Regions from separate parts of the Homo sapiens genome. Here region 1 is linked to region 2. The links come from fine-mapping of genetic effects on gene expression. A gene starts in region 2. The other region holds a variant in brackets. All regions are shown on one strand. Distances are between the middles of the regions.

Region 1 (15,238 bases), 26 kb after region 2:
ACTCCCCAGGACGGCTGGAACATCCTCAACTTCATTATCGTCTTTATCTTGCTCTTGCGGTTCTTCATTAATGAAATCAATATTCCCTCCATCAACTACACTCTCAGGTGAGCGGGGAGCTCTGGAGAAATGAGGGGGACCTATCTGGAACCCAGGAATGAGATGGGGGGATAACGACCAGCTGGAGATCAGCTTTGCCTCTCTGGGCAGCTGGTGGGGGTAATGAGGAGGGAAGGGGCTGGGAAGGGCCTAGGGGCACCCCTGACAGGCTCTGCCACAGGGCGCTTCGTCTGGTGCATGTGTGCATGGCGGTGGAGCCCCTCGCCCGGATCATCCGCGTCATCCTGCAGTCGGTGCCTGACATGGCCAATATCATGGTCCTCATCCTCTTCTTCATGCTGGTCAGTGCCTGCCCCCGCCCCCAGCTGTTTCCCTTCCCTGAACAGGGCCCTTGGGTCATTGCAAATAGAGGGGTGTCTGGAAAAGCAGAGAGGCCTGTGGGCCTGAATCCCTGTGATTTCCTCAGCAGCGTTCATTTACATGACATTTGTGTGTCCTATTTCCAGGCCCTTTGGTGAAGTCGGGGTGGGGCTCTTTTCTCTCTGACAGGTTTTTTCCGTGTTTGGAGTAACACTCTTTGGTGCATTCGTGCCCAAGCATTTCCAGAACATACAGGTTGCGCTGTACACCCTCTTCATCTGCATCACCCAGGACGGCTGGGTGGACATCTACAGTGACTTCCAGTGAGTGCCAGTGGGACTTCCAGCCTCATCCCACCTATGGGGCAGGGTAGCCGGTGGAGCTCCAGGCTGAGAGTGGGAGCTCCAGGGATTGGGATGAGGATGGCCCAGTAGAAGTGGGGGTTCCCAGGTCTTTAAACAGAGGAAAAGGAAATACCTGGACTTGTGATACCTGAAGCCTTGTCACCCTTGAATCTCCATATATTCAGAGTCCCATTCCCACCCTGTAATGGGGACCTCTCCCATCATGCTAACCAGCTGGGTAGTTGGCCTTGGATAAGGCAGCAGGTCTGCAGTTATGCCTCAGGTTACAGAGCAACCTCCCAGCCCACCTTGGAGCCCACCAAACTGCCTGAACTCCTGGGAACTTCAGGTCTCATTTCATTCATTCTTAAACCCACTGCCCACATTCATTTTTGTGTTCTGTTCTTTACCTCTTTTCTATTAAGTCTAAGCCCTATTTCTTTCCAGTTTATTCCAGAAAGTGGGACCCCTTAACTGATTTCTTTTTATCTTCTACATGTGAGTATAGAAGCCCAGTAGATAAAGGGCTTCTACAGTCATTCTCCATTATGGCATAGGTAGTGGATAAAAATCAGGCTGGCCGGGGCCGGGCGCGGTGGCTCACGCCTGTAATCCCAGCACCTTGGGAGGCCGAGGTGGGCAGCTCACGAGGTCAGATCAAGGCTATCCTGGCTAACACAGTGAAACCCCATCTCTACTAAAAATACAAAAACAAAGCCCAGTGCAGTGGCTCACACCTGTAATCCCAGCACTTTGGGAGGCTGAGGCAGGTGGATCACAAGGTCAGGAGTTCAAGACCAGCCTGGCCAAAAAGGTGAAACCCCGTCTCTACTAAATATACAAAAATTAGCCGGACGGTGGGGCGCCTGTAATCCCAGCTACTCAGGAGGCTAAGGCAGGAGAATCGCTTGAACCTGGGAGGCGGAGGTTGCGGTGAACCCATATCACGCCACTGCACTCCAGCTTAGGTGACAGAGTGAGACTCTGTCTCAAAAAAAAAAAAAAAAAATTAGCCAGGCGTGGTGGCAAGCACCTGTAGTCTCAGCTACTTGGGAGGCTGAGGCGGGAGAACGACATGAACCCAGGAGGTGGAGCTTGCAGTGAGCCGAGATCACGCCACTTCACTCCAGTCTGGGCAACACAGCGAGACTCCATCTCAAAAAAAAAAAAAGGAGTGTAGCTAATAGATTAAACTTAATAGTGTTGATGTGCACGTCCCCACCTTGCAGGGTTGGTTAGAGAATCAGCTCACTGTCTGGCAGCACAGTAGGTGCTTAGTAGAGAGCAGCTATTGAGACAGGAGTAGGGAATGGGATCTGCACAACAGCAGTGACACAGGCAGAAGTTCTAGTAGGCCTTGGGATGATTTTCCCATTTCAATGACAAGGAAACTCAGGCTTGAAGGGCCAGGGAAATGATGGGGCCCCTGCCTGCCATCTGCAGGACAGAGAAGAGGGAATATGCAATGGAGATTGGGGGTGCCATCTACTTTACCATCTTCATCACCATCGGTGCCTTCATTGGCATCAACCTGTTCGTCATCGTGGTGACCACCAACCTGGAGCAAATGATGAAGGCAGGAGAGCAGGGACAACAGCAACGAATAACCTTTAGTGAGGTGCGTGGGATGGGGAGGGCAGAAGGGAGGAAAAGGAGTGTGTATGAGAGCGGACTTGAACATATGTGCATGTATGTGTGTGCTTGCATAATCAAGGGCCTGGAGAAAGCCAAGTTGGAGGCCTGGAGGCAGCAGCCCCCCATCTTGAGTGCCCACCCACCAACTGGGGCTTCTGAGGGGTGTGGATTTTCTAGATGTTAGATTTCTATGGCAACTCAAAACTGAGCAGCTGGGTGACCTTGGGGCATTTACCCACTCTAAGCCTCAATTTTTTTCTTTTGTAAAATGGGAATAATAATAGTACTTAACTCATAGGGTTATTTTATGAGGGTTAATGGGTAAATGAACAGTGCTTGGCGCATAGTAAGCACTCAATAAATGTTAGCTACGGTATTATTCATTCAGGGCAGTACTTCCATAAGGTTGGGGAAAGGGGTGGAGTACTTCTAAAAGAGTGGAGTGCTGGAGGCCTGGGCTTGAGGGTAGGCAGGGCTTTATAAATTTGCTGGGTAGGGTTTATCAGGGTTGAAATCTGGGGCAGGGCTAAATTTTGAAATGGGGTGAGAATTTTTAAAGAGGTGGGGGGAGGTCATGTGCATTTAAAGTTGGGTTCCCCCAGCAAGGCAGTGAGGCTAAGATTGGTGAGAGCTGAAATGAGGGCCTTAGAACCCTGGGGTCCTAAGAGACTCATCCTGAAGCCAAGCAGGAAAAGGGTGCCGGGGGCGTGCCTGCCTGAGCTGTCCCGACCCCTCTCTATCCCCCGCTTCCCAGACAGGCGCAGAGGAAGAGGAGGAGAATGACCAGCTGCCACTGGTGCATTGTGTGGTCGCCCGCTCGGAGAAATCTGGTCTCCTCCAGGAACCCCTTGCGGGAGGCCCCCTGTCGAACCTCTCAGAAAACACGTGTGACAACTTTTGCTTGGTGCTTGAGGCAATACAGGAGAACCTGAGGCAGTACAAGGAGATCCGAGATGAACTCAACATGTAGGGGAGGGTACTGGGGCTGCCCCCAAGTCATGTGAGTCAAGGCTGGGCGGAGCGTCAGAGTCTTCTGGCCTCACGCCCTCACCATTTATAAGGCAGAGCCTGGGCCCCACAGAGGTCCCCCACCCTATTGGTGGAGGAACTGGAATCCAGACTCCAGGTTCCTTCCATCTCACACAAGGGCACAGCTCGGCCTGGGTCTCTGTCAGGGCTGCGTGGGAGAGCGAAGCGGGGGTGACGCCAGGGAAGAGGTGGGAGGGCTGCTTCCCTCCCCTGAGGCCTTCTGAAAGGCACTCACTGCTCCACCCCCAGGATTGTGGAGGAGGTGCGCGCAATCCGCTTCAACCAGGAGCAGGAGTCAGAGGTGTTGAACAGGCGCTCGTCGACGAGCGGGTCGTTGGAGACTACGTCATCCAAGGACATCCGCCAGATGTCTCAACAGCAAGACTTGCTCAGTGCGCTCGTTAGCATGGAAAAGGTGTGCCTTCCTTCTCCTACCCAATGGGTACTCGCCCTGACACTCTGCTCAGCCCAGCCCAGCCGGGCCTCTGGACCATTTGTCAAAGTTTCTGTCTATTCCAAGATCTGGTCCCCCTCACCACCACCACCCCTCCTTTTTTTTCTTTTTTCTTTTTCTTTCTTTCTTTC[CTT/C]TTTTTTTTTTTTTTTGAGACGGAGTCTTACTCCATCGCCCAGGCTGGAGTGCAGTGGCGCGATCTCGGCTCGCTGCCACCTCTGCGGCCTGGGTTCAAGCGATTCTCCTGCTTCAGCCTCCCAAGTAGCTGGGATTACAGGTGCTTGTCACTGCACCTGGCTAATTTTTGTAGTTTTAGTAGAGATGGGGGTTTCACCATCTTGGCCAGGCTGGTCTTGAACTCCTGACCTCGTGATCCACCCTCCTTGGCCTCCCAAAGTGCTGGGATTACAGGCGTGAGCCACTGCACCTGGCTGTCTGCCTCTTAAACTTCCATCTGCCTCAGCTGTCACTGCCTATCTGGTTAGGTTCTGCACTTTCCTTCTCGGAAAGGCTCCACCCTTCCTGCCAGTTTCATCTCTAGTGCCTTCAAACCTACCCTTTCTTAGTGTGTGTGGCATGAGCCAGCTCAGTGCCTGCCTAGTGGCAGACACTTAGGCTGTAAGTATAGTGTGGGCACAGGACCCAGGATCCTATCTAAGGTGCACAAAACCAGCTGTCTCCTGAACTCCTGGAGAGAAAAAGGCACACACCCACGTTACTTAGTTTCTTTTTCTGCCCCTCCACACCATCAGCCTGGGATATACCCTGGGCTCCCAAACTCAGAGGGGGTACTAGGTAGGCTCAAGTTAGACCTATGAAGCACTTCTCTGGGAGGCCTGGCTGGGGAAGCTGGTGAGACTGGAGGAGGTGAGTAACGGAGGCTGCCATATCGGGGGGAGTGGGGGATTAACAAGAAGACCTCTTGGTTTGCAGGTTCATGACTCTAGCTCACAAATACTCCTTAAAAAACACAAGAGCAGCCACTGAGAGGCCAGGATGGGAGCCAAGGGGCCTGCACACACACACCCAGCCGCTGCGTCTTCCTGTGTCCTTAGTGTGGCTTGGCAGAGCCTGGCCAGAGCCCATCCTCTCCCTTATACCTGGGCAGAGGCCAGGGGCTGTGAAGGTGGCAGCACCTGCAGGTCTGGTGCCTGTGAGCCCCAGGTCCGGTGGAGCAAGGAGAGAGGAGGATGCTGGATGATGAGAGTGGGAACCCTAGCAGCAAGGATGAGCACAGAAGGGGGTGCTGGCCAACGCAGCCAGGATTTGACCTAAGGATGGGGATCCCTGGCCCCCTGCTCTTGCCCAGAGCTGGTGGGGGGCCTCAGTGGGCCCCAGAACCAAGAAGAGAAAGGCAAGGCCAGTGGGGCCAGACATCTGTGTGTTGACAATAAAGTTTTGTGTTGGAATCAATGTCTCTGACTGGTGGATCTCCAACTCCTTGGGGCACTTGCCTGGGTCTAATAGGAAAGACAGATCTTGCCCCTCAAAATCCCGTTTGTCTGGTGGGAGAGTCACAGGCTGCCCTGAAGAGCATCCAGTCTAATGGGAGGGAGAATTGCACCCCTAAAAATTTCTGACTTAATGGTAGAGATATAACCCTTGCCCTCAGGGTCCTAAGCTTTGTGGAGGAAAGTCTGGTCCTCATGGGAGGGAGCCCCTGTCTGATGAAGGAGATGGCCCTACCTGCTCTCTCCCTGTCTGAAGATGGAGACTGGTCCTCACTCTGGGGAGCCCTTGTCTGATGGGATCACCAATGACCAAGTCACACAAGTACAGGCACCTCCATCCTAGGGCAATGGAGACTGACTACTTAAAATGTGGGTCCTGGCAGCTTCCTAGAGGAGAGGAAGATTTTGCGGGTCAGATGAATGAAGTCTGGTGGGGAACTTAGGACCTGTGAAGCCTATTTGGGATCTTCATACTCAAGGCCACTGAGAGCCTCAGCAGGTTCCTGAGCTATGCAATCTGGGGAGAGTCAGAAAATTGTGGCAGTTATGGGCAATAGAAAGAGCTGCCTTGGAGGACAGGAAACCTCGGTTCTGGTCCTTCAGTGAGTCACTTGGCCTTGTTTTCCCCATCTGTGCGATGGAGAGAGGGTGAGATTGATCTCCATCTCTAAAATCAAATAATCCCCTCTTATCCCAGGAAGTGGAAGACCCATGGGATCAGCTATGTCCCTGGGATGCAGGTGTCAGGGGATAGCCTGGAAGGCCTGGACATCTGCCCTGTTGTTCAGCGAAGCCTGACACTTAGGGGCCGTGGCGATATTCACCAGTTGGAATGGGAGTCCCCAGAGGTCCACTGATTGCAGCTGATGGGAAACCCCACCCCCCATCGTCCTCCCATCAGCATTGGTTCCAACTCTGAAAAGCCCCCTGGGGTCTGTTGGGAAGGAGTCTGGCCCCTGGGGATGGATGGTGCACTCAGTAGGCAGATGAGAGGCAGCAACAGAGCCAGCAGTGCCTTACTGTCTCGGAGCCGTTAATCTATTCCCCTGTTTGAGCCAGGACTTCTTCCCAGCACCCTCCAGGACCATCAGCAGCACAGAGAAGGGCACCCAGCGGATTTTGCTGCTGCTGTTGCTACTTACTGGAGATGGCGCCCTCAACCTGCCTGGTGAGTATCTACATACTCTTTCCACCCATCTTTCTCTGGGGGCCCTCTCAGCCCCTCTTCTTGTTGGCCAGAGAGGGAAGAAGGTGGCAGATCAGATGGTGTCTTCAGGAGGAGCTAACAGTTTGAGTATGGCTATCCTTCACCCCTAACTGTCTGAAAGGCTTGGAGCATCAGTGAGCTTACAGTCAGGAGCACAGCAGGGTGACCTCCATGGAGCTCCTGGCCTTGACCATCTATCTCCTCCAGGATGCTATTTTGTCTATCTACTCCCTTCATCTTGTTTGTCATCTCATCTGTCTCTGCCTTTGTCTTTCCCATCCGGGCCAACCTAACAGCCTGGAGTTTCAGCAGGCTAGTTCCTTCCCAAACTGGCCTGGAACTGAGGGCCCAGGAAGTCATACTCTCCCCTTCCCCTTCCCCTTCCCTACTCCAGCAAAGAGCAACTACCACTCCCCATGCCTTACTGAGCCTGAGTTAGGAGTGGGGCCCCGGATTCTGAGCTCCTAGGACAGTGCGGGGGAAGATATTGGGAGGTGGCTGGAAATTGTGTGTCTCATCACCCCTATGGTCTCACCTGATGGGTTTCCCATCAGCTACAATCAGTGGACCTCTGGGGACTCCCTATGAGTCCATAACTTTTACCAGGGACAGGAGCATCCTTGGCAAACTGTCCAGGAAGCAGACACCAATTCTGATGACAGGAGCAGCAGGGGATAATCATTCCCAATAGCAGTTCTACTCATTGAGTACCTACTAGGTGCTAAGCATGGTGCTGAGTGCTTCACACGCAGTATTTCATCCTCATGACCATCAGTGAAGTGGGTATGAAGAGGATATGTCCCCACGGGGGACTTATCCTCCATCACAGAACTGAGATCCTAACCCAGGTCTGACTTCAGAGCCCAGGTCACACTTCTCAAGGGAGCTTCTGTGGGCAGGAAACCTCAATATCATAAAGATGTCAATCCTCACTGAACCTATAATTGCAGGGCACCTCCAATCACAATTCCAACAGGTTGCTTGTAGAAATTGTTAAGCTGATCCTAACATATGTAAGGAAGAACAAAAGGCCAAGAATAGTCAAGATAATTTTTTTTTTTTTTTGAGACGGAGTTTTGCTCTTGTTGCCCAGGCTGGAGTGCAATGGCACGATCTTGGCTCACTGCAACCTCCACCTCCCAGATTCAAGCAATTCTTCTGCCTCAGCCTTCCGAGTAGGTGGGAGTACAGGCATGCGCCACCAAGCCCAGCTAATTTTTTGTATTTAGTAGAGATGGGGTTTCACCATGTTGGTCAGGCTGGTCTCGAACTCCTGACCTCAAGTGATCTGCCCACCTCGGCTTCCCAAAGTGCTGGGATTACAGGTGAGAGCCACTGCGCCCGGCCTGTCAAGATAATTTTGAAGCACAAGATGGGTGACTCACCCGACCAAATATTGAGGCTTACTATAAAGTAACAGTAAGATAATGTGGTGTTGGTTGGGGGAAAGATGGACTTTTCCATAAGGGGGCAGGGATAACTGATTAACTATATGGAAAAAACATAAAGTCAGATTCAGTGGAAACATCCCTCCCTGCAAATAAAAACTTGAGACCCCTATAGCAAGACATATAGGTTCAGTGCAAACTAGATCTTTGTTGCAAATGGACCCCACAGATGACTAGAGTTTACAATGCTCCTCCACACTGAGCCAAGTCCCTCACTAGGCTAAGAGGAACATGGAGGCCCAGAGAGAGGTGAGACCTTCCCCAGCGTCACCCAGCAAGCCAGTAATAGAGCCAGGTGTAGAGCGTAGGTCCCCCTACCCTTTCCAAGCATCCTTGCCAATTCCCCTGGCCTGTTGCAATCCCTTAGCTCTGCACAGGGCCAGAAGAAAGTGGGTGTGGGACTGGGCAAGGTGGCTCATGCCTACAATCCCAGCACTTTTAGAGGCCAAGGCAGGAGGATTGCTTGAGGCCAAGAGTTTGAGACCATCCTGGGTAATATAGTGAGACCTCATCTCTACAAAAAATAAAAAGAAGGCTGGGTGCAGTGGTTCACGCCTGTAATCCCAGCACTTTGGGAGGCTGAGGGGGGCAGGTCATGAGGTCAAGAGATCAAGACCATCCTGGCCAACATGGAGAAACCCTGTCTCTACTAAAAAAATAAAAAATAAATTAGCTGGGCGTGGTGGCACGCGCCTGTAGTCCCAGCTACTCAGGAGGCTGAGGCAAGAGAATCACTTGAACCCGGGAGGTGGAGGTTTTAGTGAACTGAGATTGTGCCACTTTACTCCAGCCTGGCAACAGAGTGAGAATCTGTCTTTAAAAAGAAAGAAAGAAAGAAAGAAAGAAAGAAAAGAAAAAAATCAGCTGGGCGTGGTGGCATGCGCCTATAGTCCCAGCTACTCGGGAGGCTAAGGCAGGAGAATCACTTGAACCCAGGAGGTGGAGGTTGCAGTGAGCTGAGATTGTGCCACTGCACTCCAGCCTGGTGACAGAGTGAGGAAAAAAAAAATCAACTGGGTGTGGTGCAATGTGTGTGCAATGTGGTGCGCCTGTAGTCCCAGCTACTCGGGAGGCTGAGGCAGGAGAATTGTTTGAACCCAGAAGGCAGAGGTTGCAGTGAGCTGAGATCACGCCACTGCACTCCAGCCTGGTGACAGAGTGAGACTCCATCTCAAATAAATAAATAAATAATAAAAAGAAAAATGTTAGTCGAGTGTGGTGGTGCGCACTTGTAGTCCCAGCTACTCAGGAGGCTGAGGCAAGAGGATCACTTGAGCCCAGGAGTTTGAGGCTGCAGTGAGCCATGATTGCACCACGGCACTACAGCCTGGGCAACTGAGACTCTGTCTCTAAAAAAAAAGTGAGGGTGTGGATGGTGCCAGAAAAGAAGGGTTGGTGCATCTTCAGAATTAGGCGATGGGAAGGACAAAGAATGAGCCTGCCACCTGGGCTGGGTCACTTCCAGTTTTTTTTCTTTTCTTTTCTTTTCCTTTTTTTTTTTTTTTTTGAGTTTTGCTCTTGTTGCCCAGGCTGGAGTGCAATGGCATGATCTTGGCTCATTGCAACCTGTGCCTCCCGGGTTCAAGCGATTCTCCTATCTCAGCCTTCCAAGTAGCTGGGATTACAGGTGTGTGCCACCACGCCTGGCTAATTTTGTGTGTTTTGTAAAGACGAGGTTTCACCATGTTGGTCAGGCTGGTCTCGAACTCCTGACCTCAGGTGATCCTCCCATCTCAGCCTCCCAAAATCCTGGGATTACAGGCGTGAGCCACCATGCCTGGCCAGCCTCCAATTTTCTGAGTTAGCCTTTTGAAAACTGCCAAGAGGCTGGACACGGTGGCTCACGGCTATAATCCAAGCACTTCGAGAGGCTGAGGCGGGTGGATCATTTGAGGCCAGGAGTTCGAGACCAGCCTGGCCAACATGGCAAAAACCCATCTCTACTAAAAACACAAAAATTAGCAGGGCACGGTGGCATGCGCCTGTTGTCCCAGCTACTTGGGAGGCCGAGGCAGGAGAATCACTTGAACCCAGGATGCAGAGGTTGCAGTGAGCCAACATGACGCCACTGCACTCCAGCCTCGGTGACAGAGTGAGGCTGTCTCAAAAAAAAAAAAAAGAAAGAAAGAAAGAAAGAAAGAAAGAAAACTGCCAAGAATGCAAAAACAGCACATCAGGTGATGGGCCTATTTCTGCCCATTACCCAGGGGAAAGAAGAAGGTTTCCAAGGAATCCAGCCCAACATAATTGATTTGGGCCTTTCTAGAGAGAGCAGCTGGCTCAACCATGAGAATAAAGCTGTGTTTTTGTAAGGCAGTGCAGTGTGGTAGGGAAGGCATTGGGTTCTGGTGTCTGATGGACTTTGTTTCAAATGCAGTGGCACCACTTCCTGGCTGTGTGACCTTGGACAGATGTCTTCACCTGTCTGATCCTCAGTTTCTTCATTTGATAAATGGAAATAATAGTCCTTTTCTACAGGTTGGTTGTAAGGATTTAATGTGCCTGTGCATTGGAGCAGCACCTTACCTGGGCAGGGTGACACTTGAACAATATCAAAATGATCCTTGACTGCTATGACACTCAATGAAACACTCGGCTTGCAGTTAGGGGTCATATTGTTCAAAAAATTCATATCTTTAGGCCGGGCACAGTGGCTCATCCCTGTAATCCCAGCACTTTGGGAGGCTGAGACAAGCAGATCACTTGAGGTCAGGAGTTTGAGACCAGCCTGGGCAACATGGTAAAACCCTGTCTCTACTAAAAATACAAAAATTAGCCAGGCATGGTGGCTCATGTCTGTAGTCCCAGCTGCTCAGGAGTCTGAGGCAAGAAAATGGCTTGAACCCGGGAAGCTGAGGTTGCAGTGAGCTGAGATTACACCATTGCACTCCAGCCTGGGTGACAGAGCGAGATTCTGTCTCAAAAAAGAAAAAAATCGTATCTTTAAATACTAGAATCATATTCAATGCAGTAGGAAACTAATATCAAACAAGGCATCAAGAAATCAAACACCAATTGAGATAACAGATTTCTGTCTTTTACTGACTTGCACTGTCTAGAGTAGCCATTGAGTGGAATGAGACATAGTTACCTGCACAAGTAAAATTCTCTCTCCCTGGTATACATCTGTTGAAATCTATTGGCACAGAGCTGGCACATAAATGTGAGCTGGTAAGATTTACATATGTATGTAAATCAACACCCACTACATTATATATAATATATATTTATATATGTATATATAATATATATTTATATGTATATATAATATATATTTATATGTATATATATTTTATATATATAATTTTATTTTAGAGATAGGGTCTCACTTCGTCATCCAGGCTGGAGTGCAGTGGCACAATCAGAGCTTGCTATAACCTTAGATTCCCGGGCTTAATCAATCCTCCCGCCTCAGCCTCCCAAAGTGCTGAGATTATAGGCGTGAGCCACTGTGCACGACCTGATATTATTTTTAGGGAGTCTCCCAGTAAGAATATTTGACAAGTCATAACATCTGAAAATAACTCTGGTTTGGTGGAAGGAACAGGTAGATTGCTTTCTCTTTTATTATTTATTTATCTATTTATTTATTTTGAGATGGAGTTTCTCTCTGTCACCCAGGCTGGAGCACGGTGGCATGATCTCAGCTCACTGCAACCTCTGCCTCCCAGGTTCAAGTGATTCTCCTGACTTAGCCTCCCAAGTAGCTGGGACTACAGGCATGGGACACCACACCTGGCTAATTTTTTTTTTTTTCAGTAGATATGGGGTTTCACCATGTTGGCCCGGCTGATCTCGAACTCCTGACCTCATGATCTGCCCACCTCAGCCTCCCAAAGTGCTGGGATTACAGGCATGAGCTACCATGCCCGGCCTCTTTTTTTAATTTTTATTTTTCTCTACTTAGATGGGGTCTCGCTATGTTGAGCAGGCTGGTCTCAAACTCCTGCCCTCAAGTATTCCTCCCATCTCGGTCTCCCAAAGTGCTGGGATTATAGGCATGAGTCACAATACCCAGTCTAGATTACCTTCTGTTTATTTGTTTTTTCACAGGCAGTGTTACAATCTGGGGAGTTGTGTCAAAAACAATACACTCCACAGAAGACTCTGCACCTGAGGAAATTATATTGTGTTCATCTACAACTTCAACTCTGTTTAACAAAGGGAAAGACAATGTCTCTCCAGCTGTACTTAACAGTTCACCAACAACTGACAAGACATCAACATCTGAGTCCCAGAAGCATACAACACCAGCTGCTCCTCCAACCTCTCCACAAACAGCAGCTCTAATGGGTCCACTGAGCAGACAACTTCAATACAAAAAACTCAGGAAGAGAAATTAAACACAACTATCAGCACAACCTCCAAGGGTACACTGCTGCCAAATTCCATCATGACTTCTACATTGAAGGACCAGGGAGGGATATCAAGAACCACAGCTTTATCCAGCACGGCCTCTTCAGTTGAGACCCCAAAACAGAATCAGGAAACTCCAATTATAACTCCATCAGCATCAAACACCACAGTCAATGGGACACAATCATCAGTGTCCATTGGCTTTCAGGAATCAGACACAATCACATCCCCAACAGCACTGAACACACCAGGCAGTGATGTTCAATCATCTGGGTCCATGGCAACCACTGTCTCTGGGAAGTCAGCTATAACTACATCCCCAACAGCAAAGAGCACGCCAGGCCATCATGTTCAATCATCCGGGTCCATGGCAACCACTGTCTCTGGGAAGTCAGCTATAACTACATCCCCAACAGCACTGAACAAAACCACTGGCATAAAAGAATCTTCACCCATGACAGCCAGCGAAGTTATGCACACTACCTTGCTAAACACAACCACTCTCGGGACAACTCTTCTTGGAACAACTACATCTGAGACTCAGGAAGGAAAAACTACAGCTGCATCCTTATCCCCAACAACCACCTCCATGATAAGCAAGTTGTCTGGAACACATCATAACACAGTCTCACAGACACCTTCCCATCTGGCAGAATCAACCTCCAGTGTTGCCACTGCTATAATCCAGTCACATGAGATGACAGCTGCTCATTCCACAGGCCTTCTCCCCAGGTCCTCGGAAACAACAAAATCCTCTGCTGTAACTGGGGCCAGTCAAACCTCCCCTAAACACACCCAGAGTAGTGGTCCCAGAGTTGGAGCCTGTGCTTTGGATGAGTATGCAGGTAGCAGGGGAGTTTGTATGTGCAATGACAGCTACTACTTCCACGCGGGTAAGTCTGAGGAACTCATGTGAGTAAAACAAAGAAGAGGTGGGGGCCAGAGTGGACACCATAATTCTGTGAAGTCTCAAAGGGTCCAAAGGGTATGAGAGGGCCAGTGAAGTTTGGTAAGACGTTGGCATCTTCTGAGTCCACCTGGGTAGAGGTGATTTCTGGTGGGAAGACAGGCAGCTGGGCATATGGGATAGAGTGCACAATTTTTCAGCTCCAGCCCCCAGGACTCTAGCTACTGTCCAGAGATGAAACTTTCCTGGGGGAAGGAGCTGCACCAAAGACAAGAACTGTAGTTCCAGCGGAGGCCTGGAAGGCCAGGTGGAAAAACTAAGGCAAAAGTCTGACTGTTGGGGCAAGTCAGTGTGGCAGATATTACAGAAAGGCTGAGTTCACAGGGCCTCCGACAGGCAGTGCCACAAACTCCCAGATCCATCCTCTGCAGGCCTGAAGCTGGGTCTAAGACAGCAAAAAGATAATAATATCCCCCAAACATATGTTCTTCACGGTTGAAATAATTCTAACCTCTCCTCCCCCAAGCATTTAAATTTAACAAGTCTGGGCGCAGTGACTCATGCCCGTAATCCCAGCACTTTGGGAGGCTGAGATGGGAGGATCACTTGAGGGTGGGAGCTCAAGATCAGCCTGGGCAACCTAGTGGGATCCCATCTCTACCTTTTTTTTTTTTTTTTTTTTTGAGACGGAGTGTCATTCTGTCGCCAGGCTGGAGTGCAGTGGTGCAATCTTGGCTCACTGCAACCTCCGACTCCCTGGTTCAAGCGATTCTCCTGCCTCAGCCTCCCAAGTAGCTGGGATTACAGGCACGTGCCACCATGCCTAGATAATTTTTGTATTTTTAGTAGAGAGGGGGTTTCACCATATTGGCCAGGATGGTCTCAATCTCTTGACCTTGTGATCCATCCGCCTCAGCCTCCCAAAGTGCTGGCATTACAGGCGTGAGCCACTGCGCCAGACCCCTGTCTCTATTTTCAATAAAATATAATAAAATATACTTAACAAAATTCTGCTTTTCCTAAAATGACTATTGTGTCTTTTTTTAAAAAAATCTAATTCCTTTAAAAAATATTTCTTTGGCATTCCTGCCTTGGTCTATTGGGTAGTCCTGCCTTGGGATGAAGCTTTTGTTACATGCAAAACCGGCAGTGCTTAACTTATGGGTCACTGTTTTCCAAAATGTATTTCCTGGGACACCAGTGCTATGTGATTGCAATAGACATTTCACTTAAAAAAAAAAGTTCTATTGTCATATACATTTGGGAAATGCTGGATTCAACAAAATTGTGTCTCGACTGAAGAACTTTTCAGAGCCTTTAATATTCCACTGTTTCCTGTGACTTCCTAGCAGCAGATTATAGCATATATTTCCTAAGATTATTTGTTCCTAGAATCCTCATTCTAAGGAATGTTCATGCAGCACCTTGGGATATCTATTGCAGAGCAGGGGAGCTAAGCAGGGCTGTGCAAGGTAGAAGTCCAATCCAGGTGGTTTTTAGTCAAGCCTTGAGGCAGATGCTGGCCCATTAGAGGGTTGTCACTACCTCAGCAGACTCTCAGTAAAACCAGGGTTATGTGCCAACTTGTACATGCTGCATGTGCCCCTCCACAGAAAATATGACGTACATCATCGAGTTTTTACACATTGAGAATGAGACAGCTTTTCCTTTTGTGTTATTTCTTTCCCCCTGTGGGTAAGAAGAACATGGGCTCTGCCAGATAAACTGGGTTTGAACTGTGTCTCATTTTCTTTCGCTAGGTATACGACTGCATTTACCTACCAGCTATTATTAATATGATTTGGCACTTTGTATCACAATATACGATTGACTGCAATTGACTGCAACAACAGAATGTTACGTGACTGACAAACTCCCCCTCCTCTCAACAATACGCATTGATGAATATAAAGCATCTGCTCTTTTTTTTGTTTTGTTTTTTTGAGACAGGGTCTTGCTCTGTTGCCCAGGCTGGGGTGCAGTGGCGTGA
Region 2 (14,317 bases):
CCAGGTTCAAGCGATTCTCCAGCCTCAGCCTCCTGAGTAGCTGAAATTACAGGCACCTGCCACCGCGCCCAGCTAATTTTTGTATTTGTAGTAGAGACGGGGTTTCACCATATTGGTCAGGCTGGTCTTGAACTCCTGACCTCATGATCCCCCCGCCTTGGCGTCCCAAAGTGTTGGGATTACAGGTGTGAGCCACTGCGCCCGGCCAATTTAACCCATTTTTTCAAGACAAAGTTTCTTCAGGGACTTCCCTGCCCTCAGCTTGAAACAATAATAAAAGCATATCTGCATATACCAATTAAGGAAGCTGCCCGTGATACGTTAAAAATAGTAGTCATTGTTCTAAGCACTTAACTTGTATTATTTCATTTGCTATCGATTATCTCTTAAATGAAAAAGTATGGCTGGGCAGCACTTTGGGAGGCTGAGGCAGGCAGATGGCTTGAGCCCAGGAGTTCAAGACCAGCCTGGGCAACGTGGTGAAACCTCATCTCTACCAAAAAAAAAAAAAAAAATTTAGCCAGGCATGGTGGTGCATGCCTGTAGTCCCAGCTACTCAGGAGGCTGAGGTGGGAGGATCACTTGAGCCCAGGAGGTGGAGGCTGCAATGAGCTGAGGTTGCACCATTGCACTCCAGCATGGGTGACAGAGCCAGACCCTGTCTCCAATAAAAATAAAAAAGAAAAAGTACAATTTGCAGAATAGTATGTAGACTATCTGCAGATATAGAAAATAGAAGAATATCCCAAATTTAGTAGTGGCCCCCACTGGGGAACATGATAGAGACACACTGGGGAAAGGGCACATCCTTCTTTCACTTAACCTATTACCTTTGAAATGTATACAGCAAATATGTAGAACTTTATATTCATAAAGCTTTTTAAAATAGGCTGGGCATGGTGGCTCACACCTGTAATCCCAGCACTTTGGGAGGCCAAGGTAGGTGAATCACTTGAGGTCAGGAGTCCGAGACCAGCCTGGCCAACATGGCAAAACCCTGTCTCTACTAAAAATAAAAAAATTAGCTGGGTGTGGTGGCGCACACCTGTAATCCCAGCTACTTGGGAGATTGAGGCACGAGAATCACTTGAACCTGGGAGGGAGAGGTTGCAGTGAGCCAAGACTGCGCCACTGCACTCCAACCTGGGCAGCGGAGCAAGACTCTCTCAAAAAACAAAATGAAACCCTTTAAAATAGAAGTTGTCAGCCGGGCGTGGTGGTTTACGCCTGTAATCCCAGCACTTTGAGAGGCCGAGGCAAGGAGATCACTTGAGGTCAGGAGTTTGAGACCAGCCTGGTCAACATGGTGAAACCCCATCTCTACTAAAAATACAAAATTAGCCGAGCATGGTGGCACACGCCTGTAATCCCAGCTACTTGGGAGGCAGAGGCAGGAGAATAGCTTGAACCTGGGAGGCGGAGGTTGCAGTGAGCCAAGATCATGCCATTGCACTCCAGCCTGGGCAACAAGAGCAAAGCTCTGTCTCAAAAAAATAGATAAAAATAAATAGAAGCTGCCACTTACTGTGTTCCTAACTGCCTAACCCTGGCAGATGCTGGGAGCGTAGAGTAAAGGCGCCGTGGTTCAGGGAGAGAGGGGGCTGGTTCTCACCTCTGGTGGCAGCTCAGGAAAGATATTTGATGAAATCAAGATCTGTCTACCGAACACTGATAAAGGCTCTATTAGAATTTACTGGACTTCCCCAGAGTGCCACAGGGAGGCTGCTGCATGAAGAGGCAAAAATGTTAAACGAGGATGCAGCACGGAGTGTTCAAGGGACACAGACCTGAGGCAAAAGACAAAGCTGGAGACGGGCATTTTGCAAATTTGAAGCCAACTGGCTCACAAAATGAAAGAGGCTGTTAATACCAAGTGTGAAGGTGGGATGGCATCACCAGAGCTGGCCAAGTTCAGAGAAGCTGGAAATCTCAATTTGGATGTGACGTTATTAAATGATGACAACACACGTACACTACATGGGCCAACCATGGGCGAAATTCAGACTTTGGGTCTCTGGGTTACAGGTAAGGTCGTGACAGGCTTTGATGACTGGGGGTGCTGCAGAAATTCTGAAGTAGGTGACAACAGGTAGCTCCTCCCCACAGAATTAAAGCAATAATAACTCATATCTACCCCATGATACAGATTTCAAAGTACTTAATGTCATCACAGTGCTAAGGCCTAGGAATCCCCTTCTGGAGACAAAGAAACAGATTCAGAGAGCTGTAGAAGTTGGGCTGAGTCACATAGCAGTTGAGTATGGAACTGATTTTATCTGATTTTTTTTTTTTTTGAGACAGAGTTTTGCTCTTGTTGCCCAGGTTGGAGTGCAGTGGCGCAATCTCGGCTCACTGCAACCTCTGCTTCCGGGTTCAAGCAATTCTCCTGTCTCAGCCTTCCGAGTTGCTGGGATTATAGGCGCCCGCCACCACGACCGGCTAATTTTTTGGATTTTTAGTACAGACAGGGCTTCTCTATGTTGGCCAGGCTGATCTCGAACTCCTGACCTCAGATGATCCACCCGCCTTGGCCTCCCAAAGTGCTGGGATTACAGGCATGAGCCACCGCGCCCGGCCTTTTTTTTTTTGAGGTGGAGTTTCACTTTTGTTGCCCAGGCTGGAGTGCAATGACGCGATCTCAGCTCACCGCTACCTCTACCTCATGAGTTCAAGCAATTCTCCTGCCTCAGCCTCCCGAGTACCTGGGATTACAGGCATGTGCCACCACACCCGGCTAATTTTGTATTTTTAGTAGAGATGGGGTTGCTCCATGTTGGTCAGGCTGGTCTCGAACTCCTGACCTCAGGTGATCCGCCCGCATAGGTCTCCTGAAGTGCTGGGATTACAGGCCTGAGCCACCACGCCCGGCTGATTTTATCTGATTCTAAAGTCCTGGGAGTCCCCTGACCTGATGATGATGATGAAAATGAACATTTACTATGTGTCAGATATTTTTCTAAGATTAAAGCTCTTGCTCTGAGGTTCAGAATTCAGGGGATCCATAAACTTGGATGGGAAAAAATTATATTTTTATTTTTGCTAAACTCTAACCAAAATTTATGATTTCCTTCTATATGGATTGAAGCAGTAGCAGTATCTTTGGCTTAGTCACCAATAGAAATCACATATTTTCATATCAAATTGTAGTTATTGCAAGTATCTCAAAATATTTATGCTCAAGTGATTTCAAAATCACAGTGGTTGTTAAACCACCACTAAATTGTTCGTGAGCAACTTCTGTTTCAGATGCTCCTGTGATGTAGCCGCCATTAATTGGTTACCTCCAGGCTTAGCAGTGGTTCAGTGACCAAAGGGCGAATCTGCCTGTTCTGAGTAGGGCTTCTCCACTCTTCTGCATTCCCTGTCTTTTTTTTTTTTTTTTTGAGACGAAGTCTTGCTCTGTCGCCCAGGCTAGAGTGCAGTGGCGCGAACTCGGCTCACTGCAAGCTCTGCCTCCTGGGTTCACGCCATTCTCCTGCCTCAGCCTCCTGAGTAGCTGGGACTACAGGCGCCCGCCACCATGCCTGGCTAATTTTTTGTATTTTTAGTAGAGACGGGGTTTCACCATGTTAGCCAGGATGGTCTCGATCTCCTGACCTCATAATCCGCCCGTCTCGATTATAGGCGTGAGCCACCATGCCCGGCCCAGCATTCCCTGTTTTTAGTTGTTTGCTGATCAATATGTAAGAGGAGGGGCGTCAAAGACCACCCCACAGTTTAATGTCCTTATTCAAGCTGGTCGACAACACACTGAGGTCATTAAAAAAGAAAAATTTAACTTTCGGCCAGTCTTATTAATGTTAGTAAACACATAATATAAATTTCTGGTTTTATTTTTTTGAGATGGGCTCCTGCTATGTTGCCCAGGGTGGCTTTGACTCCTGGGCTTGAGTGATACTCCCCCGCTCAACCTCTCAACCTCTCGAGTAGCTGGGACTACAGTCGTGTGCCAGCACTCCCCAGCTCCAAATTTTTTTTTTGTTTTTTGTGGGTTTTTTTTTTGAGACGGAGTCTTGCTTTGTTGCCAGGCTGGAGTGCAGAGGCGTGATCTCAGCTCACTGCAACCTCCGCCTCCCAGGTTCAAGCGATTCTCCTGCCTCAGCCTCCTGAGTAGCTGTGACTACAGGCGTGCACCACCACACCCAGCTAATTTTTGTATTTTTAGTAGAGACGGGGTTTCACCATGTTGGGCAGGCTGGTTTCCATCTCTTAACCTCATGATCCACCCGCCTTGGCCTTCCAAAGTGCTGGAATTACAGGCGTGAACCACCATGCCCGGCCAAATTTGTTTTTAAATATAGTTTTGATAATTGTTCTCATTGTAATCCTAAGCATTTTGTTTTGTGCATTTATTTATTTATTTATAATACAGAGTTTTGCTCTGTTGCCCAGGCTGGAGTGCAGTGGCACGATCTTGGCTCACTGGAACCTCCCCCTCCTGGGTTCAAGGGATTCTCCTGCCTCAGCCTCCTGAGTAGCTGGGATTACAAGCACCCACTACGCCCAGCTAATTTTTTGTATTTTTAGTAGAGATGGTGTTTCACCATATTGGCCAGGCTGGTCTTGAACTCCTGATCTCAAGTGATCCGCCCACCTCGGCCTCCCAAAGTGCTGGGATTACAGGCGTGAGCCACCGCGCCCGGCCTGTTTTATGCCTTTATAAGCAGCTATTCTGAGAAAGCATTCACAGGCCTCACCAGATGCCAGAGTCCATACTGCAAAATCCAAGGGAGGCTAAACACCCCAGTTCTAAATGTTTTCAAGCCATTCAGATACTGTGCACAGCTGCCCTTTGAAGTACGGTCTATTATATCTCTTTTACAGACCCAGAAACTGAGGCGCAGAAGTTAGGGTCAGCCCCAGGTCACACAGCTAACAAGAGCTGGCCTAGGCACCCAGGGACCTGGCCCCCTAGCCTCTGTGCTTTGCTACTGATTTCAGCGCTCCTCTTGTGGCTTTTTCTTGAGGAGCCCAAGGGTCAGGGTCCCACCCCGCGATATGAGGCCAGTGGCACTGCCCCCTAGCAGGCGCGAGATGCCAGAGCCCTAGGATGTCTGAAGGGCCGGGCAGGAGGCGGACGGGCGTGGGCCAATGGCTGTCGCAGTGCCTCATCTTGCCGTCTGTGTGAGCCCAGGTATGCAGTAGGCTCCGCCCAGGACCCAGCCCGGCCCCTCCTTAGGCCTGGGCTCTGGGAGCGGAAATTCCGGCGACAGCAGGGCAAAACAGGAGCTGATTCGAGCTGGCAGAGCTGGGCCATGGAACCGGTAGAGACCTGGACCCCCGGAAAGGTGGCAACTTGGCTGAGAGGTGGGTGGGGCTGGGGTAGAGTTGGGCTTGAAGGGGACTAGGTGTGGTGTCCCACCGGGAAGCGGGAGGAGAGGAAAAGGAAAAAAAATCTGCGGACTGGGTGCGCTGGTTCACACCTGTAATCCCAGCACTTTGGGAAGCCAAGGTGGGTGGGTCACCTGAGGTCGGGAGTTCAAGACCAGCATGGTGAAACCCCGTCTCTACTAAAAATACAAAAATTATCTGGGGGTGGTGGCAGGTGCCTGTAATCCCAGCTACTTGGGAGGCTGAGGCAGGAGAATCGCTTGAACCCAGGAGGCAGAGGTTACAGTGAGCCGAGATTGCACCGCTGCACTCCAGTCTGGACGACAGAGCGAGATTCAGCTCAAAAGAAAAAAAAAAATAATAAACTGCGGGCTCTATCAGTCGGTCAGTCAGTCAACAAATATTTACAGAGCACCTAACATGTTCCAGGAACCGTGCTGGGCAGAGAGACAGATGAGATGACCCTGGGGGGCCCAAGGACCCAGAAGGGGGCCCCTCATCATGGCAGTAGCCCAAGAGGCCTCTAGGGTGATAATGGGGAGGCGGTGTCATGAAAACAGGAGGGAGGCCTGACAGGCCCACACCCACTGTATCTCCTTCATCTTCCCTGGCCCCAGGGCCAGTGGGCTGTTGTTAAATCCGTTTCTTAGAGTCAGAAACTGACACACAGAGCCAGGAAATGATTTGCTCAGTCTCTGGTGTCATTTTCCCCGCTCCACACCCTGAGCTCCTAGTGACAGAAGCAGAAGCCCTAGGCCAGACTGAAGAGGTTGACACAGCCCCACCCTGGGGCTCCTATCCAAGGGGCAAGGTGCTGTCCAGGCTCAGCGAGCCCACACAGATGGGAAGCAACACACCCCACAGGCAGACTCAGAGAAGGAAGGGCCTCCTGACACACAGTGCGACCAGGAGCAGGCAGTCAGGACACCCCTCCCAGAGTGGGGAGCTGGAGCGCACTAGAGACAGGCTCAGGAGGACCAGCCCGGGTAAGGGCAGGAATTCAGGGCTGGGTTCAGACTCCCAGGCTGGATTCCAGGCCCACCCCCACCGCTTGCCAGCTCTGTGACCATAGGTCTTAGTTTTTCTGTCCATCAAATGGGAAAGGCAACTCTGACCTTATGAAGTCGACAAAGTGAGACAATCATGACATAGTTCATTTGTAGCTCAATGCCTGGGTCTATTGGGAGGGCACCAGCCCAATACAGTCACCGTGCAGGAAGGAGGTGGCTCAGGGGCCCATAGCCAGGGAGTGATAGGTTCATGAACTCCCAGTCCAGTGCTCTCAATGTGACACAGGGAACACACACACACACCTCCCCCAGTGAAGGAGCCTGGCTTAGAAGGGGAAGAATTCCTTCGAAGAGTGAGCAAGCTACTTAACCTCTGTGTCAGTTTTCCCATCTGTAAGCAGGATAATGATAGTCTTTACCTCCTAGAAATGCAGTGAGAATCAAATGTGTTAATATGTGTAAAGCTCTTATAGATTTGCATAGCACATAGTAAGCCCTCAATAGACACTTTTCTTATTTTTCAGTGCCTACCTTGTCCAGGCACAGGCCGGGGGTTAGAGACAAATGGTTATCTAAGGCCTGATCTTTGAAGAGCCTGTGATAAAATGGGAAAGACCGATGGTCAAGTGCAGGGGTTTGTGGAGGCTCAGGGGCAGTGGGAACAAGAGGAGAGCCCTCCATCCCACTCAGCCTGGGAAGTTATGGAAGGCTTCCTGGAGGAAGTTAGATGAAAAAGGAAGTGAAGGAGATAGAAGAGCAACGCCAGCAGGAGGAATAGCACTTGCAAGGACGCTGAGGTAAAAGGGTGTTCCAGGAGCTGCAAGGAATTAGCTCTGTGCATCTGAAATGTTGAGTTTAGGGGGCTCTTCAGGATATGATGCTGGAAAGGGAGGTAGTAGCCTAATCATACAGGGCCTGTAGGTCATGGTAAAGTCTGGCAATAATAATATGATGGCTATTATTGGCTGTCTCCCACGAACCAGACAGTGGCCAAGGCCTTGACATATGTTGTGTCATTCAATACACACATGATTAGAAGGTAGGTACTTTTATTATTCTCACATTACAGGTGAGAAAACTGGGCACAGAGCAGTGCTATTACTTGCTCAAGTGTTCACAGTGTCTCAGTGACTCCATAGCCTCTTGTTCTTATCCCCTGTATCATTAGTTCTCAAACTTAAGGGAGCATCACAGTCACCTGCATTAAAATACAAACTGCTGGCTGGGCGTCGTGGCTCACACCTGTAATTCTAGCACTTTCAGAGACTGAGGCAGTCAAATTGCTTGAGCCCAGGAGTTCGAGACTAGCCTGGGCAACATGGTGAAATCCCACCTCTGCAAAAAATACAAAAATTAGCTGGGTGTGGTGGTGTGTGCCTGTAGTCCCAGCTACTTGGGAGGCTGAGGTGGGAGGATGGATTGAGCCTAGGAGGTCAAGGCTGCAGTGAGCCGTGACTGTGTCTCAAGCCCCTGTCTCAAAAAGAAAAAACAAAACAAAAACAAAAAAAAGACTGCTGGGCCCCAACCTCAGAGTTTCTGATTCAGCAGGTGTGGGGTGAGGCCTGATAATTTGCATTTCTAACAAGTTCTCCGGTGAGTCTGCTGCTGCTGGTCTGGGGGCCACTTTTAAGAACCCATGTCCTATACTTTCCTGCTTCTCAACTCAGTGGCCTCATCTGTGAAATGGGCAGAACAGCCTGGGTGTCAGAGTTGTCATTAGGGTTAGACTAGAGGGAAAAGAGCTTTGCAGGCATGAAGAACCATCCCAAAAGGTCCTGACACCTCTGCTTCCCCGAGCTGAGCCTTACTCTCCCTCCAGGTCTTGACGACTCCCTGCAGGACTATCCCTTTGAGGACTGGCAGCTGCCTGGCAAGAACCTGCTCCAGCTCTGCCCCCAAAGCCTCGAGGCTCTGGCTGTGCGGTCTCTGGGACACCAGGAGCTCATCCTGGGCGGGGTGGAACAGCTCCAGGCCCTGGTGAGTGAATGCTGGTCACACTGGCTGCAGCTTCCACCAACCTGGGGGGTGTGATGGGGGGCTGGCTGCTGCCAGGGAGGTGACTTGCCCTCTTTCTGGCACAGAGCTCCAGGCTACAGACAGAGAACCTGCAAAGCCTGACAGAGGGACTTCTGGGGGCAACCCATGACTTCCAGAGCATAGTCCAAGGCTGCCTGGGGGACTGTGCCAAGACCCCTATTGATGTCCTCTGTGCAGCTGTGGAGCTGTTGCATGAAGCTGACGCCCTCCTCTTCTGGCTCAGCAGGTACCCGGGTTGGGGTGACGAGTGAGGGACTATTGTCATCCTTGGCCTCCTTCAGGGCGTGGGAGAGAAAAACAGATCTTGGCTCTTGTTCAGATATGGTGAGCCAGGCGTGGTGGCTTAGGTCTGTAATCCCAGCACTTTGGGAGGCCGAAGCGGGCAGATCACTTGAGGTCAGGAGTTGGAGACCAGCCTGGCCAACATGGTGAAACCCCATCTTTACCAAAAATATACAAAATTAGCCAGGTGTGGTGGTGCGCACCTGTAATCCCAGCTACTGGGGAGGCTGAGGCAGGAGAATCACTCAAACCTGGGAGGTGGAAGTTCCAGTGAGCCGAGATCATGCCACTGTACTCCAGCCTGGGCGACAGAGTGAGACTCCCTCTCAAAAAAAAAAAAAAAAAAAAAAAAGATATGGTGGAGCAGGGCAGAGGGATTAATCCACCTGTGCAGGGGCACTGGGATGCCAGAGTTCCCACCCCACCCTCCAGCTTGTAATAATCGATCTCATCAACAACCACTGAATGGAGAGCCTCCCCAACCCTGTGCACTGGCTGCTGCTTGTCCTACAGACCCCACCTCAAATGTCATCTCGGGGAAGCCTTCCCTGTTGTACACTCTCCAAGCTATACTATTAATAAATAATAAATAATAACTTATTATAAACTCATTATCCAATGTTTCATGATACTCATTACAGCCAAAGTTAAATTGATATTGATGTATGATGTCTTTACTGTCTGTTTCCCCAGTGCCTAGAACAGGGCTTGGCATGTGGTAGGCACATGACAAATAAGTCCTGTGCTAATCTCTTTAGATGTCTCAATCATCTCCTTTACTCTAAACCAAAACCCATCAGAGCAGGTATTATCCCCAAGTCTCTGAGGTGAGTAATTGGTGAGTAATTGGCTCTGAGTGGTTAAGCATAGTCCCTTAACCACTGTGCTATTCTTCCCCTGCCAGGTACCTCTTCTCCCACTTAAATGATTTCTCAGCATGCCAGGAGATCCGAGACTTGTTGGAGGAGCTGAGCCAGGTCTTGCATGAGGTAGGAGAACCAAGGGCCAGGCTTGGCCCATGCCCTAGAGACCAAGCTGGGCTAGAGCTTTTTATAACCTGTGAATCAGCCCAGGATCGAGTATGAGGATTGAGACGGGCGAGAAAGGAGGAGAGGAGGCCCTGCCACTGGGTATGGGACAATGGGGCCTGGGGTCCCCTAGCTGGCAGGGGAATTTTGACACTCAGGACAGGGAAGGAGGGGAGGGCACGTGTGGTGACTTCTGGGGGCCTGGTATCAGGGAAACGAGCCCTCTGGTTAAAACGCTGAGGCCCTGTGGTTCTGGGCAGGGGGCCAGTGTAGGGAAGGCAGGGAGGGACTGTACGGAATCCCACCCTGCCCCCAGGAGAAGGCAGTCCCCTTATGGCCCTTGCTCAGGGGAGGCCCCTGCTCTCTCATTCTACTTCCAGGATGGTCCAGCGGCTGAGAAGGAGGGCACAGTCCTGAGGATCGTGAGTCTGTGGGGTGGGAAGAGAGTGGGGGTAGGGGCGATCGGGCTCAGGCTACATAGCCCGCTCCCCTCCCCCAGTGCAGCCACGTGGCTGGGATCTGCCACAACATCCTGGTCTGCTGCCCCAAGGAGCTGCTGGAACAGAAGGCCGTGCTCGAGCAGGTGCAGCTGGACAGTCCATTGGTGAGCCCTGCCCTCCCACCTCTCACTTCTGACCCCTTGGCAGCCTTGTCTGGGCCCTGAAATAGGGTCCAGGATCCCACAGAACCCTGTGCTGCCATGGCTGGAAAGCCTTTTTTGTACAGATGCTAAAATGGAGGCCCAGAGGATTGGCCAGGGTCTCCCGTTGCTCTGCACCTCCCCAGTCCTGAGGGGCCACGCGGGTGTGGCCTCAGGTAGTGTGTTCCAGCCTTGGGATGGAGACGGGGCAGGGGCTTGGGGGCAGTTAGGAGAAAGGGAGAGGATGTGACCTTTCTTGGTTTAATCTTTGACCAGTGGGGAAGACCAGAGCCCTATCCCTGCCCTGTCCCTGCTTGTCCCTTTAGGAATGTTGCTGAGAAGCTGGTACCTCAGAAATCAGGGTCTCCAGCTTCCCTCTGGCTCTTAGCAGAGGAGAAGGCAGAGGCCCACAGGAGTAGCAAGTCCAAAGTCATACAGCAAGTCTGGGCAGGACCAGCTTGGGGTCAGCTCTTGCCACAGTTCCACCCACCATAGAGTCCTGGTGTCTGGCGGGGGTCCTGCCTATTGGCCCTGTTGCCCCCCAGCCCCCGGTGACTATAGCCTCTGCCTCTGCAGGGCCTAGAAATTCACACCACCAGCAATTGCCAGCACTTTGTGTCCCAAGTGGACACCCAGGTGAGAGCCCCACACCCTTCTCAGCCGCCCATCCCCGAGGCCTCTCACCTGCAAGCCAGGCCAACCTCAGGCCCCATTCCCCACGTCAGGTTCCCACTGACTCCCGACTGCAGATCCAGCCTGGAGACGAGGTTGTCCAGATCAACGAGCAGGTGGTGGTGCGTGAGGAGAGGGACATGGTAGGAGGTGAAGGGGTCACCGAGTGGAACCCAAGTCTGGTGGGTGGGGAGGCAACCAAGGGTTCTGACCAGGGTTGTGGGAGCTGCCTTCCAGGAGATGAGCCAGCTAAGTCTGGTGAGAGCATCCTCTGCAGAGCCCAGGTGATGGGGCCCATGGAAGCCCCCAGGAGGCTGCATGAGTGGGAGGCAGAAGTGGGAGGCTGAGAGAGAGCTCCCAGCACGAGGGTGAGAGTTGGTGGTTGCTTTAGAGCCTCCTGCCCAGGTTGATACCAGCCAGTGTTTCTGTCCCCCAGGTGGGATGGCCCCGTAAGAACATGGTGAGGGAACTGCTGCGGGAGCCAGCCGGACTCAGCTTAGTGCTGAAGAAGATCCCGATACCGGAGACCCCCCCACAGGTACCTTCCCCTGCCGCCCCCCGACCTGCCTTCAGACCCCCCCCTCCACAGGTACCTGCCCCCACCACCCCCACACCTGCCTTCAGACCCCCCCCAACAGGCACCTTCCCCTGCTGCGCCCCCCTAGCTCCCTTCAGACCCCCCCACAGGTACCTGCTCCTGCTGCTCCCCTACCCCTGTTGCCCCCCAACCTGCTTTCAGACCCCTGTCTCCATTGCTTTGTTCCTGGTTGTTCCCCAGACGCCCCCTCAGGTCCTGGACTCCCCGCACCAGAGGAGCCCATCACTGTCTCTGGCCCCACTGTCTCCCAGGTAACAGGCTCTGTCCAGGTGTGTCTTGGTGGGGAGACCGTGGGCTCATCTCATCCCCCTTGCCCTCCCCAGGGCCCCATCTGAAGACGTCTTTGCCTTTGACCTGTCTTCAAACCCCAGTCCCGGACCCAGCCCTGCCTGGACAGGTAGTCTCAAAGCTCCATGGATGCCCCGGACACGGCATCTGGGCACCCAGTTCTGACCCCAAGCCTGGGACTGGGCTCATAGACTTTCCCTCTCTCTCCTCCCTCCCTGACAGACTCTGCCTCCCTTGGCCCTGAGCCCCTGCCCATCCCCCCGGAACCCCCAGCCATACTCCCAGCAGGGGTAGCAGGGACTCCAGGGCTCCCTGAATCCCCTGACAAGGTAAGCTCAGGGGCTTAGCAAGGGGGTGGGTGGGTCTGGACCTAGATCCTTCTCTCACCCTTCTGCTGTCCTTTCAGAGTCCTGTTGGTCGGAAGAAATCAAAAGGTATGAGGTGCGCTGGACTAGGTGGGGGTTCCCCTGTTTGAGGAGCTGTTAAAAATCTTTACATGCTGGGCAAGACCACCCCCATCCTTCCCACACAGCCTCTCCTGGAAACAGCTCTGTTTCTAGGGTCAGACAGAGCTGTGCTCCCAGTCTGGGCCTCTCACCAGACTAGAGGCTAACCTGTTTGCTGTGACTGAGCAAACAGGTTAGCCTCTAGTCTTCAGTTTGCTCATCTCTAAAATAAGAAGGGTCATCCCACCTCAGAGATGACACATGTAGCATTCTGAGCAGAGTGTGGGTTCAGAGATCTCACTTGGGGATGCTTGTGGAAGGCAGGGAGTAGGTTTAGCGGGGGCACCTTGCCAGCCCCTCACTGCCCAGCTTGTGCTGTGCTGCTACAGGCCTGGCGACCCGGCTGAGCCGCCGGCGGGTGTCATGCCGTGAGCTGGGCCGGCCGGACTGTGACGGCTGGCTCCTGTTGCGAAAGGCACCGGGCGGCTTCATGGGCCCGCGCTGGCGCCGCCGCTGGTTTGTGCTCAAGGGACACACGCTCTACTGGTACCGCCAGCCCCAGGTAAGACCCCATACACAAAAACAGGTAGGCAAGTGAGTCACTTCCAGGCCTCGATTCTCATCTCTATTCTATCATCCACTCTTATTCCTGGTCCAAGGCTTTGATGTCCCCATCTGTAAAATGGGGACTTTATTCAGAGAGAAATGAGTTAATATATGTATAAAAGCAGTTTGGAAAAGGTATCATAGGAGGTATAGAGAAAAATCTTTTTTTTTTTTTTTTTGGAGACAAAGTCTCACTCTGTTGCCCAGGCCGGAGTGCAGTGGCATCATCTCGGCTCACTGCAAGCTCTACCTTCCGGGTTCACGCCATTCTCCTGCCTCAGCCTCCCGAGCAGCTGGAACTACAGGCGCCCGCCACAACGCCCAGCATATTTTTTGTGTTTTTAGTAGAGACAGGGTTTCACCGTGTTAGCCAGGATGGTCTCGATCTCCTGACCTCGTGATCCACCTGCCTCGGCCTCCCAAAGTGCTGGGATTACAGGCGTGAGCCACCACACCCGGCCCTGAAAAATCTGGGCAACATAGCAAGATGGAGTCTTGCTATGTTGCCCAGCCTTGTCTCAAACTCCTGGGCTCAAGCGTTCTGCCTGCTTCAGCCCGCCAGAATGCTGGGATTATAGGCGTGAGCCACCACATCTGGCCGAAAAATCACGTCTATTCTGCCCACTTCTCCTTATCCTTCTGATATTCTGTCCATCCGAATGATGGGCCATTCATTTACTCATTTATTCATTCAGGATTCAGGTGCCTACTGTGAACCCAGCTCTAGGCTGGGCACTATGGACACAGAGAAGAATTGGATGATTTTTGCTTCTCCAGAACTTAGAGGCTAGTAGGGGAGAGGGATGAATACACACTCAAGGACAATGTAGGGACCGTGTGCTAAGATAAAGGGAAAGCCCAAGGGATATGTGGGAGCACAGCAGAGGTGTCCAGTCCATCCTGAGGAGTCCAGATGCCCCCTGACAATGCAATACCTGGCAGTTAGTTGCATGGGAAGGGGAAAGAAAACCAGGAAGAGAAAGCAGCATTCAGAAAGCTCAGGGGTGTGAAGCAGTTTGGTTTGTGTCTACTGAAGGAACAAATGCATGAGCAAGCTCTTCTTGTTTGGTTTTTTGGTTTTTGTTTTTGAGACAGAGTCTTGCTTTGTCACCCAGGCTGGAGGGCAGTGGCATGATCTCAGCTCACTACAGCCTCAGCCTCCCAGGTTCAAGCGATCCTCCTGCCTCAGCCTCCTGAGTAGCTGGGACTACAGGCACATGCCACCATGCCTAGCTAAGTTTTTTGTTTGTTTTGTTTTGTTTGAGACGCAGTCTCGCTCTGTTGCCCAGGCTGGAGTGCAGTGGCGCAATCGCAGCTCATGGCAACCTTTTCCTCCCAGGTTCGAGCAATTCTCCTACTTCAGCCTCCCGAGTAGCTGG

Alleles and levels. Alleles are on the strand shown, and positions count from the first base shown. SD is a standard deviation of normalised expression in the study named.
For the expression in naive CD4 T cells of the gene that starts at base 5,199 in region 2, allele C in region 1 goes with a lower level than allele CTT (large effect, 1.2 SD a copy in Schmiedel 2018).

Evidence for each region.
Region 1: its variant is fine-mapped to the expression of CNKSR1 in naive CD4 T cells (Schmiedel 2018, PIP 0.95).

Annotation. Positions count from the first base shown.
Region 1 is chr1:26,197,677-26,212,914 of GRCh38, forward strand. It overlaps CATSPER4 (cation channel sperm associated 4), which reads left to right. Exons shown (of 10, transcript NM_198137.2): 4 at 10-107; 5 at 281-401; 6 at 610-743; 7 at 2,208-2,382; 8 at 3,154-3,365; 9 at 3,678-3,843; 10 at 4,813-5,288. The coding sequence ends at 4,866. Among named protein-coding and RNA genes, the nearest start is that of CATSPER4, 15 kb to the left of the region's middle. RefSeq lists enhancers at 296-795, 3,779-4,751. The variant CTT/C (reference allele first, on the strand shown) is at 4,014.
Region 2 is chr1:26,172,293-26,186,609 of GRCh38, forward strand. It overlaps CNKSR1 (connector enhancer of kinase suppressor of Ras 1), which reads left to right and starts at 5,199. Exons shown (of 21, transcript NM_006314.3): 1 at 5,199-5,307; 2 at 8,161-8,318; 3 at 8,423-8,604; 4 at 9,565-9,649; 5 at 10,069-10,110; 6 at 10,188-10,292; 7 at 10,905-10,964; 8 at 11,054-11,122; 9 at 11,437-11,538; 10 at 11,779-11,849; 11 at 11,922-11,995; 12 at 12,109-12,215; 13 at 12,293-12,320; 14 at 12,722-12,894. The coding sequence starts at 5,256. RefSeq lists an enhancer at 9,778-10,279.